2 separate regions of the Homo sapiens genome follow, and region 2 is linked to region 1. Evidence: fine-mapped expression QTL. A gene starts in region 1. The other region holds a variant in brackets. All regions are shown on one strand. Distances are between the middles of the regions.

What was found. PIP is the estimated chance that this variant, and not a neighbour inherited with it, causes the effect.
Region 2: its variant is the best candidate, but not a certain one, in a credible set for the expression of NSL1 in NK cells (Gilchrist 2021, PIP 0.60).

Annotation. Positions count from the first base shown.
Region 1 is chr1:212,789,834-212,795,022 of GRCh38, forward strand. It overlaps NSL1 (NSL1 component of MIS12 kinetochore complex), which reads right to left and starts at 1,944. Exons shown (of 6, transcript NM_015471.4): 1 at 1,697-1,944. The coding sequence starts at 1,930. TATDN3 (TatD DNase domain containing 3) reads left to right here and starts at 2,061. Exons shown (of 10, transcript NM_001042552.3): 1 at 2,061-2,154. The coding sequence starts at 2,089. RefSeq lists enhancers at 617-1,395, 1,870-2,149, 4,284-4,784, 4,663-4,732, 5,073-5,122.
Region 2 is chr1:212,714,816-212,720,021 of GRCh38, forward strand. No RefSeq gene overlaps it. Among named protein-coding and RNA genes, the nearest start is that of BATF3, 18 kb to the left of the region's middle. The variant A/AT (reference allele first, on the strand shown) is at 2,673.

The DNA.
Region 1 (5,189 bases):
TCCTAGAATCAGACAAATTCTAAGATTATACAACAAAAGTCTTCTCCCAAAAAACTACTAAAAACGTCCTGAGATATATCCCTATTCTTGCCTTGCTTGCAAGGAGGGAATGACGTAAGAGTCACTATATACAAAACTACATACAGAGTCACAACCCAGGAAGTGTTTCTTCATTCTTCCACTGAACCTTTTTTTTTTGAGATGGAGTCTCGCTCTGTCACCCAGGCTGGAGTGCAGTGGCGAGATCTGGGCTCACTGCAAGCTCCGCCTCCCGGGTTCACGCCATTCTCCTGCCTCAGCCTCCCGAGTAGCTGGGACTACAGGTGCCTGCCACCATGGCCGGCTAATTTTTTGTATTATTATTATTATTGTTTTAGTAGAGACGGGGTTTCACCATGTTAGCCAGGATGGTCTCGATCTCCTGACCTCGTGATCCGCCCGCCTCGGCCTCCCAAAGTGCTGGGATTACAGGCGTGAGCCACCGCGCCCGACCCCTTTTGCCTGTTTTAGAGTGAAAACATTTTCTTTACAAGACTAAAATAGGTTAAAAAAAATTGTGTTGGTTGAAAACTTTACTAAGATCATACATTTGCCTCTATACCACATTTCCCAAGCCTTTCTTAAATATTTTTGCAAAGCCCTGAAGGTGGTAGTTTTTTGGGAACACAAGAAATAAAGGGATTGTGTGCTTCCTTATAACAGGCACCAATCTACTTATATTAGCGGAAAAAATTTAAAAGCTCATAATACCGCACATTTGTGAGTTATGAATGACCACAGTGCAAACAGTAAAAATAAAGGTTAATAGGCCGGGCGAGGTGGCTCACGCCTGTAATACCAGCACTTTGGGAGCCCAAGGCGGGCGGATCACGAGGTCAGGAGATCGAGACCATGCTGGCTAACACGGTGAAACCCTGTCTCTACTAAAAACACAAAAAAATTAGCCGGGCGTGGTGGCAGGCGCCTGGAGTCCCAGCTACTCAGGAGGCTGAGGCAGGAGAATGGCGTGAACCCAGGAGGCGGAGCTTGCAGTGAGCCGAGATCGCGCCACTGCACTCCAGCCTGGGCGACAGAGCGAGACTCTGTCTCAAAAAAAAAAAATAAAATAAAATAAATAAATAAATAAAACATGCAAAAGGAAAGATCAAATGCTGCTTGGGTGAATGGCTGACTTCCAGAATTACCCTTTCCAGGAGAATTCCTCATTGTCTGCGGCTGCATTGTCCAACAGGTGAGCCACTAGCCACTTTGTAGTTACTGAGCGCTTAAATGTAACTAGTTCGAAGATGTGCCGTAAATGCAGCACACCAGATTTGAAAAGCTTAGTACGAACAAAAGAATGTAAAATATCTCATTCATTTGATATTATTACATGTTAAAATACCTTGGATTTATTGGGTTAAACAAAATGTCTTATTTCCATTAACTTCACCTATTTCTTACTTTTAGTTTAAAACTACATAAAGATTAGCTTGCCTTGTATTTTCACTGGACAGCGCTGGTCTAAGTAATTAATAAGACCCAGCTGACATTAGCATCTATTTCTTTCTCCTCTAGCGTTTCTCGAACTGGTTCTACAGTAGCCTGGGGCACCGTTAATTCTGCCAAGGCCTGGCGTGGGATCTTTCTGAATCCTAAGATCCTGGGTGTTGGGTAAGAGGATGATGAGTAAAGAACTGGCTAACTGGTCCCGTACCCACTGCGCATCTCGCAGAGCGGGCTCCCGAATCTCCTCCGGCAGAGCGTCCCCGAGCTTTTGCACGAAGCGGCCGCACAGTTGTAGCATTTCGGTCACAGCCCGCTTCGAGGTGCAGCGCACCCGAAAGTCTTCTCGGGGAGTGGCGGAGACCAAGGCCTGGCTCTCTGTGCCAGCCGCGAGCTCCTTGTCCCATGGAGGGTCAAGGACCACCAACTCAGGAGACCCCGCCATTTTTCGTCGGAACTGTGGGCGGGGCACTCTGGGAGCGGAAAAGCGGGTTCACACTGGTGTAACCAGCATGCATCCGGCTGGAAACTCAGGACGCTGCAGCTGAAACGTTCCGGCTCCGGCTCTGCTGGCCGGTCTAAAGCGGCAGCCGCCGGGGCGCAATGCGAGCGGCTGGCGTAGGCTTGGTGGACTGTCACTGCCACCTCTCCGCCCCGGACTTTGACCGCGTATGTGAGGGCGATACGGGACCAGAGGGAGCAGGGAGGCCCCCGTCCTTTCCCCTCGTGTTATCTTTGCTCTCCTCCCTTGGGACGAAACCCCATATCCCCCGCCCAGACCCTTGTTTATGGCCATATGACCTTGCCCCTCATTTCCCTATTCCCTATTTAACCTCAGACATACCGATTTTTTTTTCCTGATTCAGTAGCGGTAAGCTATCTCCACAAGGCTTTTGTTTGCTCTTCTGAGTTCCTGGAATCGTTCCCTCACTCCCCTTGGCTGGCCTGTTTTTCCCCTCGGGGCTCTCACCTCCTGGCTGAGATGCCACTCTTTGTGGGAAGCGGTCCTCGAAACGCGTTCAAATCGGGGAGAGGTCGGGCGCGGGCTCACGCCCGTAATCCCAGCACTTTGGGAGGCCGAGGCGGGCGCTGCGCATCTCCTGTGTCCAGGAGATCGTGACCAGCCTGGGCAACATGGTGAAACCTCGTCCCTACAAAAAAAAAAAAAAAGCCGGTGATTGTGGCGTTTGCCTGTGGTCCCAGCTACTCGGGAGGCTGAGGTGGGAGAATCGCTGGAGCCCAGGAGGTGGAGGTTGCAGTGAGCTGACATCAAGCCACTGCACTCCAGCCTGGGTAACAGTGAGACCCTGTCTCAAAAAAAAAAAAAAAAAAAAATTCACAAATGGGGGAGAGAGGCAAACAAACAAACAAAAATACATGGCCGAGTGTGGTTGCTCACACTTGTAATCCTAGCACTATGAGAGGCCGAAGTGGGTGGATCGCTTGAGCCCAGGAGTTTGAGACCAGCCTGGGCAATGTGGTGAGACCCCGTCTCAATTAAAATAATAATACACACGTAAAATCAGTTACAAACTGTTTTACCCATTACGTGGGAAACTAGAGACTAATAATAGAGGATTAAGGGGGGTTTTATTTCAGGGGGAAATCCTCCCAGGAGCTGACACTTAAGGCTGAAAAGACAAGGAGCCACCCAAGCAAGGGGGTGAGTGTATGCTGGTTAGGGAAACAGATAGGTTGCAGGCCCCCAGACAAGCTAGAATTTGGCACATTTCAGTTGCCAAAAAGCTAAGTGGAGCCTGATGAGCTAGAAAGAGAAAGGCATGAAACAAAACTGGGGAGGTTTGCAGGGGATAGATGAGGTGGGTCAGTAAGGAATTTGGATTGCATTTGAAGCACAATGCAGATTCATTAAAGGGCTTTTTTAAAATTTATTTTCATTTTTTTATTTTTTTAGATTGAGTCTGGCTGTGTCCCTCAGGCTGAAATGCAATAGCATGATCTCAGGTCATTGCAACCTCCACCTCCTGGGCTCAAAAAATTCTCCTGTCTCAGCCTCCCAAGTAGCTGGGATCACAGGTGTGTCCCACCACGCCTGGCTAATTTTTTGTATTTTTAATAGAGACAGAGTTTTGCCATGTTGTCCAGGCTGGTCTTGAACTTCTGGCCTCAAGTGATCAACCCTCCTTGGCCTCCCAAAGTCCTGGGATTACACAAAAATGGATAGGCATGATGCTATCCATTTTAACACCATTTTGCTGCTGTATGGCAAATGGGTGGAGGAGAAGAGTGGAAGCTACAAGACTAGTTAGGAGGCTTTTGCAGTATATAGGCAAGAGATGTTGGCTGTTGGTACTATGATGATAGCAGGTGAGTTTGAGATGAATACATGGATTCAAGATACATTTTAGAGAGAGAATCCACAGTAAGTACTGAAGAATTGGATGTGGATAGCAAGGGAAAGGGAGGAGTCAAGGATGACTCAGATTATTAGCTTGTGCTATAGGGAAGATGGTGGTGCTGGTTTACTGAGATAAGGGAAGACCAAGGTCTGAGGTGGAGGTGGGGAGGTCAGCAGAAGGAATAGGTTTGTGGGGAGAAAATAAAGATTTATGTTTGGGGCATATTGGGAAACCTAATCCCATCCAAATGAAGATGTCATAATTTTTAAACATGAGTCATGGGCTCAGGAGAGAATTACAAGCTAAAGATAAAAATTGGGGGCCGGGCGCAGTGGCTCATGCCTGTAATCTCAGCACTTTGGGAGGCCGAGGTGGGCAGATCATAAGGTTAGGAGATCGAGACCATCCTGGCTAACATGGTGAAACCCTGTCGCTACTAAAAGTACAAAAAAATTAGCTGGGCATGGCAGCATGTGCCTGTAGTCCCAGCTACTTGGGAGGCTGAGGCAGGAGAATGGTGTGAACCCGGGAGGCGGAGCTTGCAGTGAGCCGAGATCGTGACACTGCACTCCAGCCTGGGTGACAGAGCGAGACTCCATCTCAAAAAAAAAAAAAAAAATTGGGGACTCAGGCTGGGTTCGATGGCTCACACCTGTAGTCCCAGCACTTTGGGAGGCCAAGGTGGGTGGGTCACCTGAGATCAGGAGTTAAAGACCAGCTTGGCCAACATGGTGAAACACCATCTCTACTAAAAATACAAAATTTAGCTGAGTGTGGTGGCGGTCACCTGTAATCCCAGCTACTCTGGAGGCTGAAGCAGGAGAATCACTTGAACCCGGGTGGCAGAGGTGGCAATGAGCCGAGATCGCACCATTGCACTACAGCTGGGAGACAAGAGTGAAACTTCATCTCAAAAAAAAGAAAAAAAATGGGGGCCTCAGCATAATGATGATAAAACCATGAGAGGAAGTGAAATCACTCAAGGCAAGTGCAGAGAGAGGAGCAGATGTTCTTGAAGTCTGAAAGAGGAAGGGGAGCTAGTCAAGGAGACTGACAAGTAGCCACCAATGAGAGAGTGGTATTGCAGAAGTGAAGGGTGGAAAGCATTTCAAGAAGGAAGGAGTAAGCAAGTGAGGGATTCCGAATGCTGCTGAGGAGTAGAGTAAGATGAGGACAGAGAAATACCCTGTATATTTGACAATAGAGGCTTCTGTTTTAGTGCTGGGAACAGTAGCCAGACTTTACTGATAGTAAGAGTAAACAGGAAGTGGGTCAGTGTAGGCTCTTTGTTTTCCACCACTCCATTAGTTGCTATCATTGTTATTTTTTGTGATGCCACAACTA
Region 2 (5,206 bases), 75 kb before region 1:
CTGGGCTTATGTGATCCTCCCACCTCGGCTTCCCAAGTAGCAAGGACTATAGCTGTGTGCCACCACTCCTGGCTAATTTTGTTTTGTTTTGTTTTGTTTTTTACTTTTTGTAGAGATACAGTCTCTTTATGTTGCCCAGTCTTGAACTCCTGGGTTCAAATAATCCTCCTGCCTTGGCCTCCCAAAGTGTTGGGATTACAGGCATGAGCCACCATGCCTAGCCAAGAGTTATTTATATATTCAAGATACTAATCTTTTGTCAGATACACGGTTTGCAAATATTTTCTCCCACTTTATAGCTTGTCTTTTCATCCTTTTAACAACATCTTTCAAAAGGCAAAATCTTTAATTTTAACGAATCCAATTTATCCATTTTTAAAAATGAATGATGCTTTTGGTGTCAAGTTTAAGAACTCTTTGCTTAGCCCTAGATCCTGAAGATTTTCTCCTAGTTTTTCTAAATGCTTCAGTTATATATTTGATATTTAAGTGTGTGACCCATGTTAATTTTTCCATAAAGCGTGAGACTTAGGTGGATGTTCCTTACTTTTTTTTTTTTTTTTTTTTTGAGACAGGGTCTCACTCTGTTGCCCAGGCTGGAGTGCAGTGGTCCGATTTAGGCTCAAACTGCAACCTCCGCCTCTCGGGTTCAAGCAATTCTCATGCCTCAGCCTCCCACATAGCTGGGATTACAGGCATGCACCACCACACATGGCTAATTTTTGTTTTTTTAGTAGAGACGGGGTTTTGCCATTTTGGCCAGGCTGGTCTTGAACTCCTAGCCTCAAGGGATCTACTGCCTCAGTCTCCCAAGGTGCTGGGATTACAGGCATGAGCCACCAAACCTGGCTGGTTGTTTGTTTCTTTTACCCATGGATGCTCAATTGTTCCAGTACCATTTGTTGAAAAGACTTATCTTTCCTCCTTGAATTGCTTTTGCACCATTGACAGAACTCAGCTGGCCATATTTGTGTGAGTCTACTTCTGGGTTCTCTATTCTGTGTGGTCTTGATCTGTGTGTCTACCTCTCTGCCAATATCCCACAGTCTTCACTATAGCTATATAATAAGTCTTGAAATTGGATAGACTGAGTCTCTCTACTTTCTTCTTTTTCAAGATTGGTTTAGCTATTCTAATTCCTTTGCCTTTCCATATACATTTTAAAATAATCTTGTGTATATGTATTTTGGGATTTTACTTACTTACTGGGATTTTGATAGAAATTACATTAAATATGTGTATAAATCTGGAGCGAATTGGCCAGATTGAGTCTTCCATCCATGGACATGTTGTGTCTCTTCTTTATTTATATGTTTGACATCCTTCATCAATGTTTTGTAGCTTTCAGCAAATAAGTCCTATACATGTTTTGTTAGGTTTACACTCAACCACTTTTTGTTGAGTGATTGCAAATGGTATTGTATTTTTATTTATGTGTCCACATGTTCATTGCTAGTATAGAGAGATACAACTGATTTTTGTAGGTGTATCTTATATCCTGTGACCTTGCTAAACTCATTTGTAAGTTCTAGGAGTTTTTGGTGCATTCCTTGGGATTTTCTGTGTAGACAATCATGTCATCTGCAAATAGGACAGTTTCATTTCTTCCTTTCTGATCTATACAGTTTTTCTTTTATTTTCTTTCCTTATTTCACCAACTAGAATTTCCAGCACTATGTTGAATAAACTTCTGAGAGTGGACATTTTTGCCTCGTTCCAGATCTTAGAGGAGAAAGCATTCCATCTGTTATCATTAAGTATAATAATACTAGCTGTGGGGTTTTTGTAGCTGTCCTTTATCAAATTGAGGAAGTTCCCCTCCATTCCTACTTTTTCTGGGAATTTTTATCATGAATCATTGTTGATTTTGTTTTCAAATGCTTTTTCTGTATCAATTGATATGATCATGTGATTTTTCCTCTCTAGACTATTAATATGGTAGATTACATTGATTTTCAAAAATTTAACCAGACTTCCATTCCTGGAATACACTCTGCTTAGTTATAAATTTTTTTTCTTTTTTGTTTTGAGACAGAGTTTCGCTCTTGTTGCCCAGGCTGGAGTACAATGGCGCGATCTCGGCTCACTGCAACCTCCACCTCCCAAGTTCAAGCGATTCTCCTGCCTCAGCCTCCCGAGTAGCTGGGATTACAGGCATGCGCCACCAAGCCTGGCTAATTTTGTATTTTTTTTTTTTTTTTGGTAGAGATGGGATTTCTCTGTGTTGGTCAGGCTGGTCTCGAGCTCCCAACCTCAGGTGATCCACCCACCTCGGCCTCCCAAAGTGCTGGGATTACAGGTGTGAGCCACTGCACCTAGCGAATTTATATATATACACTGCTGAATTCTTTATATTGCTCAAATCCCTTAGCTGTAATAGGACTATTAAAATTATTTCATATTGGGTGAGTTGTGATGGTTTGTGTTTTTCAAGGAATTGGTCCATTTGATCTAAGGTGTCAAATCTATGTGTGTTTCATTGTCCTTAGTATTCTTTTATTATCCTTTTGTTATCTGCAAGTTCTCTAGTGATAGTCCCTGTTTCATTTTTGATATTAGTGTCCTTTGTCTTCTCTCTTTTTTTCCTTGTTGGTCTTGCTAGAGGTGTATCAATTTCATTGATCTTTTCAAAGAATCAGCTTTTTGTTTCAGTGGTTTGCTTTATTATTATT[A/AT]TTTTTTTTACCAGCGTCATTGATTTCTGCTCTTAATATTATTTTCTTATTTCTGCTTGCTTTGGGCTTATTTTGCTCTTCTTTTTTAGGTTCTTGTGGTGAAAGTTTTGAAACATTTCGTGCTATAAATTTCCCTCTTGGCACTGCTGTAGCACAAATTTTGATATATTGTGCTTTCATTTCCATTTAGTTCAAGGCATTTTATAAAAAGTTTCTTTTGAAACTTCCTATTTGACCCATGGATTATTTAGAAGAGTGTTATCTTGTTGTCCTCTTACCTTTCTGTTATTGATTTCTAGTTTCATTCCACTGTGGTCAGAGAATACACTCAGTATGATTCTAATTCTTTTAATTTATTGAGGTTTGTCTTATGGCCCAGGATATAGTCTATTTTGGTATACATTTCATGGGTACTTGTAATGAATGTATATTCTTCTGTCATTGGGTGGAGTGTTCTATAAATATAGATTTGATCCTGTTTGTTGATGATGTTGCTGAGATCTATAGACTTGCTGATTTTTTTGTCTAGTGGTTCTATCAACCATTGTCAGATTTCTTAATTTTTGCCCATCTAGGAGGTGTAAAATGTTATCTTATTGTGATCTTAATTTGCATTTCCTTGAGTTCTAGTGAGATTGGTTATCAAATTATGTTTTTATCCCTAATTGTACTTTTAAAAATATATCATTGATACTTTACCAATGATATAGCTTATGAGGTTGGTGCAAAAGTAATTGCGGTTTTTTGCCATAAAAGTAATGGCAAAAGCCACAATTACTTTATACCAACCTAATAATTATTCAAATTTATTGCTTTATTTTTCCTTGTTTTTTCCTGTTTTTGTTTTGGTTTTGGTCTTGTTTTTACATATGTAGTGACCTCTGCCAATGGATCTGAATAGAGATGGGTAATTCTCCTTGTGTATCTCTACCTGGGACAGTGCCACAAACAATTAGACACACACTTAGGTCAAAACCCTTCAATTATTCCCCATATTGTGACAAATATAATCCAAAACTTTAGGCTGACTTTTAAGTCGTATATGGCACACTTTAAATTTACCTAATCCAGCTGTGTCAATGCCTCCCTATTTCCCAGCTTAGCTTGTTCCTCCCTCCACGATTTTGGCCATGTCATTTTCTTTGAATACAGTGCTGTCAACCAAAATCCTATTTACGCTTTAAATGTGGCTCAAATGCTCCCTCTATGGAGACTTTCTTGATCATTCCAACTGGAAGTGATTGCCTTCTTCCTCTTAACAACAGATTATAGAACGTCTGTCATATAATGACTGCATGGTTTGGTATCATAATGCACACAGCTGGGAAACCACTGGGTGGTCTCAGTGATTCAGAGCAGAAGTGTCTTATTGTTTCTTTACATCTATTTTATTGACTTGTAGGTGAAGTGCCTTTCCTTTATTAATAGTCTTTTTTTTTAGATGGAATCTCACTCTGTTGCCCAGGCTGGAGTGCAGTGGTGCGATCTCAGCTCACTGCAACCTCCGCCTTCCAGGTTCAAGTGATTCTCCTGCCTCAGCCTCCTGAGTAGCTGGGATTACAGGTGTGTACCACCACGCCCTGCTAGTTTTTGTATTTTTAGTAGAGACGGGGTTTCGCCATGTTGACCAGGCTGGTGTCGAACTTCTGATAACCTCAGGTGATCTGCCTGCCTCAGCCTCCCAAAGTGCTGGGATTACAGGCGTGAGCCACTGTGCCTGGCCTCTTTTATTAATATTCTAACTCACGTAGTGAACATTGTTAAAATTCCATCTCAAATGACTATATCCACCAAAAGTGGTGTATTGGATAAACTGCCAACTTGTTCAGCAGAAATATTACTAATATGATAGATTGGAGGAATAAATTATTCAGAATGCTGATAAACTCATGCTATGAAGTGATTTCCACATACATGTCAGTTAGATGTGGGAGATGAACTACCAGTAGCAAAACAACCGACAAAATGTATTTTACTTGTGTATTTATTTATTTTAGATCCAAGGGATATGTTTGCAGGTTTGGTACATGAGTAAATTATATGATGCTGAGGTTTGGGTTTCTAAGAATCCCATCCCCCAAGTAGTGAACATAGTACATGATAGGTAGTTTTTCAACCCATTTCCCCTCCCTCCCCTACTCCTTTTGGAATCCCCAGGGTTTATTGTTCCCATATTTGTGTCCAAGTGTACCCAATGTTCATCTCCCACTTATAAGTAAGAACATGATAGTTCATTTGATTTTCGGTTTCTGCATTAAATTGCTTAGGATAAAGGCCTCCAGTTGCATCCATGTTGCTGTAAAGGATGTGATTTCATTCTTTTTCATGGCTGTATAGTAATCCGTGGTGTATATGTACCACATTTTCTTTATCCAATCCACCATTAATGGGCACTTAGGTTGATTCCATGTCTTTGCTGTTGTGAATAGTGCTGTGATAAACATATGAATACAGGTATCTTTCTGATAGAATGATTTATTTTCCTTTGGGTATATTCCCAGTAATGGATTGCTGAGTTGAATGGTAATTCTACT